Linked DNA regions of Homo sapiens. The protein of the gene in region 1 interacts with the protein of each later gene in a biochemical or structural test. Each region holds a gene or a part of one and is shown on either strand. Other genes may lie near its edges.

Region 1 (3,600 bases):
TACAAGTTGAACACAGTTCAAATCTGCTGAAATCTTCATGACATGCAAGTTCATGTCTGACTTTTAAAAAGTCTTGATTTCAAGAAGAGGCCATGAAATCCCTTGGAAATAGACTATTGAGCGCCTCTTTCAAGTGGTATAAAAATCTTCAAGATCACCTCAGGAGTTGAGTTAAGTTTCTATGCGCATGTTCAATGTCATCAGCCTTGAGGATCACTTGATTTCTCCTGGGTTAATGGGTTACCTACAAAGGAAGGAGAAAATATAGTCAACATTTCATAACATACCGATAATCTTAAAACTAAACACAATTAAAAATTAATAGATAACTCAAAATGCTGGTGTTTGCTATATCAAATGCATTACTTAATTTTAAAGGACTAACAGATGCAGGTATTTCCATCATATAAAAATATACTTTTTTTCTCATTATCATCTCACAATATTTTTAAAGCCATTTGCACAATTATCCAAGTGAATATAACTGTGACTAGAATTATCCCAACTGGTGACAACAATATCCCTCTCACACCCAGAGAGTGATTCTGGAATCCTTGTTTTTTTGCACAGGCTTGGTAGCCATAACCCAAATATCACAAACACATCATACTAGGCCTCAGTGAAGAAAGACCTTTGTCCCCAGCAACACAGTCACATCATATTCTCAAAAAGCCCTTGGGGATTGGTTCCATAAAGTTCATTTTTGAAATAGTTTAAAAATTGAGGGTTTATTTGAGTCAATTATATTTGAAAAATTATATTTGAAAAATTATATTTGAAAAAAATCTGTTTATGGGGGACAAAAATATCTGAGGAAAGAAACAATAAGGAATAGAAAAATGTTGTACCAAATGTTAAAGGTGCCCCAAAATTTTCATAAAATTGATTGGAATATACTATTAATGCTATTTTAAGTATCACTAAAAACATTCATACTAACTTCACACCTACTAAAGTCCAAAGACCATTTGTGTACAGGAAAAAAGAATAATAAACAGATAGAATACCTGATACATATATACATACATATCTACGTATGCATAGATACAGAGGAAAACACACAGGGAGAGGGAGAAGAAGAGAGAGGGAGAAGGAGGGGAGAGGAAAAGAGATTTTGAGAGAGAGAGAGGATAGAGGGAGAAAGAGGGGAGAGGAGAAGAGATTACCAACACAGCAGAAATATCTCGATTTCTGCTGTGTTAATAAATTTCTAATTCTATTCTAATATCAGGCAGGGTATTTAGAGAGTTACCTAACAGTTCTTTTCTAGGAATGGCTAAAACAAAAAGTGATTTTAAAAAATTATTGTCAAAATTTTGATTTTATTCTATTAAGTGACATTGTTACTTGTCCTTTGAAAAACATTACAAAAGTCTGTTTGGTTTCATTGTTTTCTGATCAATTATGTAAAAAATGAATATATTAAACAAAATAATAAGCTAGTTCTAGACTTTGCTATGGCTAGTCTCAAATTATACTACCAAAGGGAGATGGTACAAAAGGCAAAAAAGTGTTTTCATGCATGGAGACAGTCATCTCATTTCTGTCTCAGTGGTCTGCTAGCACTCCCAAGGAAGGAGTTCTTTGCCTGCATATTTGAAGTGTTTTACTCCCATGCACAGAACCATGGAAGAAGTTGTGCCAAGGATGGAGGGTTGGAAACACATGAAGAGCCTACTGAATCTTTGAGATTCTGGGAGCAGGAGATATCTTAGGCATAGCATTGATCTCATTATCAATTATCAACTATCAATCTGCCTGCCATTCAGGAGTCATCATATACAATTTCTGTGAAGGGCTCCCAAATTGAGTATGAATGTGGACCATATTTTCAAAACTAATGCTGAAAAGACAAGAAAAGAGAGGGGAAGCTATATGTGTGTGTGTAAAAGATGGAGAGAGGAAATTGAGAGAGAAAGAGAGAGAGAGGAAATTGAGAGAGAATAAATGGTTTAGCCTCTGCTGTTGCTCAGTGTAGCCAAATGGAGAAACATGGCGGAAATGAACTGCATAAATGTGGTGCCATGACTCTATGATAGCAAGTGACACGTCCTCTTGATCCACTTCAAGCTCAGGTTCTAAGTAATCTATTAGTGAGTATAATAGATGCATTCCTATATCTTCATTTCAAGCTAAATATTTGACTCTACTAGTTTATATAAAGTTGAGAAATGATCCTCTCAGCTATTTACATATTAAAACTTTGCTCTCATATAATTTTGAAAATAGACATCTAAATTAAAAGTATAATACAAAAGGCTTATAAAACTAAAACAATTTTTTTCTCCATTTCTGTAGAGAAAAAACATAGATATATACACACACATAAACATACAAACACATATAAATAAGGATATAACCCATATCCTCAAAAACATCATAAACATCCATTTTCATGATGATATCTTTCTATCAGCTAACATAATTGCTAGAGAAACAAAACTTAAACATGACTAAAAGAAGTAATTGTCTAAACACACATGGATTACAGCATAATTAAAGCAACCTATTCTCACACCTAAGTTTTACACAATATTCCTGGATTACTAATTTTAAAAATATCCTAGCATATGAGATGAAGAATATGGTATAAATCATTTCTAATATTAGATGAAAGTATACAATCTAATACTTGATTTTTTTTTTTTGATTATTTGATTTTGACCAAGAGGACACATGGTGATTCGGCATCAAGAGCTCTGTATTTAGGCCAGAATGGCAGTATTGCCATGAAGATCAAGTATTATAATGTTATTTAACACCTAGCTTTGTCAACCCTGACCAACTATAAAAATAAAAGGTCTGGATTTTAGGAGGGATTTTTTTGCTTTTGAATGTATAAATCTTTAACAAGAGAGCCACTAAAAGTAGAATGAAAGAATCACACTATTAAATTTAGCCTAAAGCTTCCTCCTTACATATTTTAAGTTCAGCCTAAAGGTTTCTCTGTACATCATAAACTGTAACCTAAATGGAGGTGTAAACACAATGTAGCCCACTCTTACACCAATCACCGAGTTTTGGCCAATCAAAGGTGGCCAACTGTTCAAACTGTGTTCAAATGAGGCAGATGCTGAGCTGTAACCAATCTGGCTGTTTCTATACCTCACTTCCGTTTTCTCTATGTCACTTTCCTTTTTCCGTCTATAAATCTTCCACAACGTGTCTGTGCTGGAGTCTCTGAGCCTACTCTTGCTTGGGAGACTGCATGATTCACAAATTGTTCTTTGCTCAATTTAATTCGGCTAAAGTTTTTCTTTGAACAATACTAACAGACATTCATGAAAGTTTAGAGAACTGCATTGAAGGAATTAAAGCCTAACTAATGACTCATCCTTTTCAACACAAAATAAGGATGAACATGTATAAATATCTACCAGCACCCTCCCTGACAACCTCAGGGTTTGCACTAAACAAGATGGGAAAACCAAAGGTTTAAAAATGTATAGGAAAATGATTCTAAATATAGGTACATTATCACCAGTTGAAAAAGTTTACTATGCAAGGTCCAAATACTATTTGCAAATGAAATTATTACCTAAAATTAAACAAAAATATCAACCTTTTATGATTTGTATGCTTATTTTAAATAAATATGAG
Region 2 (3,600 bases), on another chromosome or scaffold:
AGGGAAACTCTTTCTCAAAAAAGAAAAAAAAAAAAAGAGAACTTTCATAGTGTCCAGCAATTTCACTACTGGGTTTATATCCAAAGGAAAGGACATCAGTGTATCGAAGTGATATCTGCACTCATATGACTGTTCCAGCACTGTTCACAGTAGCCAAGATGTGGAGTCAACCTACCTGCCCATCAGTGGGTGAATGGATAGAGAACTGTGGTACACACACACAGTGGAGACTACTCATCCATAGAAACAATAACATCCTGTCATTTGCAGCCACATGGATGGAACTGGAGGTCATTACAAAGATTCCCATTTCTCACCCACATGCAGGAGATAAAAGGTGGATCTCATGAAGGTGGAGAATACAATGGTGGACACCAGAGGCCAGGAAGGGAAGGGTGGAGGGTAACAAAAAAAAGAATATAGATGTATTTATTTATTTAGAAACAGAGTCTCTCTCTGTCTCCCAGGCTGCAGTGCAGTGGCATGATCTCGGCTCAGTGCAACCTCTGCCTCCTGGGTTTAAGTGCTTCTCCTGCCTCAGCCTCCCAAGTAGCTAGGACTACAGGTGCATGCCAGCATGCTCGGCTAATTTTTCTTGTCTGTTTAGTAAAGATGAATTTCCCACATGTTGGCCAGGGTGATCTCGAGTTCCTGATCTTAAATGATCCACCTTCCTTGGCCTCTCAAAGCGCCGAGATTACAACCGTGAACCACCACACCCAGCATATAAAGGTATTTATGACCACTAGATTTTACTTTTAAAAATGGTAAAGGTGGTAAATTATATAGTTACATTTAACCTCAATAAATATTTTTGAAAATGAAAAGAAAAGGGTGTAGGGGTTGCTGGTGATGATATCTCTCTGTGTGGGTGAGAGGCCATGATGGGCTTCTGGGAAATGGATAAGATTGAGGGGCTGAGGGAACCTCTGATCTCCCCAAACTAAGCCCAGTCTCCCCTTCTCTGGGTCTGTCCTGACCGCTTTCTCCATCTGCCTGGGTGCCTGGAGCCCTGATCGGAGGCCTCCATGCAGGCCATGAAGGAGGGTTTGGAGGTGCCCTGTCTGCCATCCTGCGCCCTGACTCCGCCCTCACACCTGCTGTGTCTTCTCTCTGCATCTGTCCATGCTTTTCTCCATCATCAGCAGGAAGCTCCTTAGCTAAGGATTTAGGATCATAGGACATGAGAGAGATATGGGCTTTTCTCACCTGTGACAGAAACAAGCAGTGGGTCACTCGGGTCTGACCACTCGTAGGGAGAGTGACGGAAAGAGCCGAAGCATCTGTAGGTCCCTCCGTGGGTGGCAGGGCCCAGAGGGAAATCTGCCTGGAATGTTCTGTTGACCTTGCGCACTGCAGGGAGCCTACGTTCATGGGCTCCCCCCTCCCTGGATAGATGGTACATGTCATAGGAGCTCCGGGAGCTACAGGACAAGGTCACGCTCTCTCCTGCCTGAACCTTGGGGCCCGGCTGGGCTGAGAGAGAAGGTTTCTCATATGGACCTGGAAGGAGAAGAGGCAGTTTCCTCAGGGAGGTTCTTCCTTGTCATAGCTCCCCTCATACCTGAGCTGAGAACTCACTCCCCTGCTCTATGACCTAATGCTCTCTCTCTCTCTCTCACCCTCCACCCCATCTCTCTTCATATCTGTTTCCTCCTTCTACCTTTTCTGTCTCTCTAGGTCTATGACCTCACTTCCCCACCCTGAGGTATGTTTTCCCTTTTTGGATTGTTTTATTCTCTCTGACCCTCCTTGGATTGGTTGACTTGATCTTCCTTTTTCTTTAATTTTGAGTCTCTCACTTTCTGTCTTGTTCATAACTTTCTGCACATTTCTATCTATTTATCTATTTTGTGTCTATCTACAAATTATCTATCATCTATATTTATGTATCACTTATCTATCTCTCTATCAATTGTCTGTCTGTCTATCTATCCATCAATCATCTATTATCTATATATGTATCATCTATCTCTCTCTCTATTACCTCTCTGTCTGCCTCTCTGTCTCTATTTATGTATCATCTATGTATATATCTATGTGTCTATCATCATCATCGTCATCTCTATGTATCATCTATCAGTCATCATCTATGTATCTATAACCAATCCATTATCTATCATCTACCTATTTATCATCTATCTACGTCTATCTATCCATCTATCATCTCTCTCTCTCCGTCTCCTTGTCTTTCTCTGCCTCTCAGTCTCTCTAGTTCTATTTGGAATCTCTGCAATCCATCCCCACATATTTATCTTTCTCTGTCTTTGTGTCCCTCCCTCAGGGTTCTGATTTTGGGGCTTTTCTCTCCTCCTTTCCATCATTCTCTCCATTCTGCCCTCTTTTCTTTCTTTTTATGTGTCTGTGAATCTCTTAATCTCCTTCTTCTGGCTCATTTTGTGTGTGTTTATGTCTTTGCTTTTTGGTGTCCCTGATTTTTCTCTGTGTCTCTCAGCGATCCTATCATATGTGGGATTATTTGGAATATGAGCCTCAGAATCCAGTCTGGGGACCCCAAGTTCACACAGCATACAGGGGTTGGTGTTCAGGGGCCATGATATCCTGGGATGATTACTCTCCATTGCATGGAAGGCAGAGGTGTCAGAATAAACACGGCATCTGTAGGTGGCACAAGGCCTGAGGCCACAGGGCCCAACTCAGGTCAGAAATATGGGTGTCCTTGGGTTCTTCTGGTAGGAACACTTTGTGGAGGTAAAACAGAAATGAAACTTCTAACCTGTGCCAGGTCTCTGAGCAAAGTCAGCATGGAAGGACACCTCTCTCTGGGACATGTCTGTCTGTCTGAGTGTCTCCTTTACCTCTTTCTCTCTTTTCTACCTCCCTGTATGGCCCCTGTGTCTGTCCTCTGTTATGACACCTGTTCTGTACTTATGTCTCCTGTTTCTCTGTCTCTGTTGGTACAGACCTCACCAAGTCACTCTCTTTCCATAAGAATCCCACACTTATCTTCCTCATGACCACCTGGGGGTTCCAAGTCCTGGATCATTCACTCTGTGTCCCAGTGACAATGAGAACAATGTCTAGACACTCTCACCTGTGACCACGATGTCCAGGGGATCACTGGGAGCTGACAACTGATAGGGGGTGTGAGTAACAGAACCGTAGCATCTGTAGGTCCCTGCAAGGGCAAGCATCATGGGACCGATGGAGAAATTGGCCTTGGAGACCCCATCATGGATCTGTCCAACGAGGCGTGAGGGGTCCTTAGAGATCCCCTCTTTGTGCAGAAAGAAGTGCTCAAACATGATATCTGACCAACATTGCAGGATGACTCTCTCTCCTGATTTCACCAGGGGACCTGGGTGGGCCAGGAGGGAAGGTTTTCTGTGGTTTCCTAGAAAGAGAAGTTGTGAGTTTAGAAGGCATCTCTCTTTATCATCCCATCCATGGCACCTGGAATGAGTGAGGGTTCCCCTCCCCGTGTCTGTCTCTCTCCTCCCTCTCTGCATCTCCGTGTCTTTTCTGTGCCCATATCCCCTGGTGCAGGTGCCTCCATCTGTCTTCCTCCCTCTTCTCTGTCCCTCTGTCTCCAGTAGCCCCTGACTCCCTTGCCACTGTGAAGACAGCCTCATCTCTTGG

What was found. The genes of interacting proteins can lie anywhere in the genome.
Region 2: the proteins of TAFA2 (region 1) and KIR3DL1 form a complex in vitro, tested with the Homo sapiens proteins (one study listed by BioGRID).

Annotation. Positions count from the first base shown.
Region 1 is NC_000012.12:61,710,174-61,713,773, forward strand, and holds part of TAFA2 (chemokine-like protein TAFA-2 precursor), read right to left. Parts: intron 245-3,600; coding exon 233-244; 3' UTR 1-232. UniProt on the Homo sapiens protein: Has a role as neurotrophic factor involved in neuronal survival and neurobiological functions.
Region 2 is NC_000019.10:54,819,468-54,823,067, reverse strand, and holds part of KIR3DL1 (killer cell immunoglobulin-like receptor 3DL1 isoform 1 precursor), read right to left. Parts: intron 3,356-3,600; coding exon 3,056-3,355; intron 1,504-3,055; coding exon 1,210-1,503; intron 1-1,209. UniProt on the Homo sapiens protein: Receptor on natural killer (NK) cells for HLA Bw4 allele. Inhibits the activity of NK cells thus preventing cell lysis.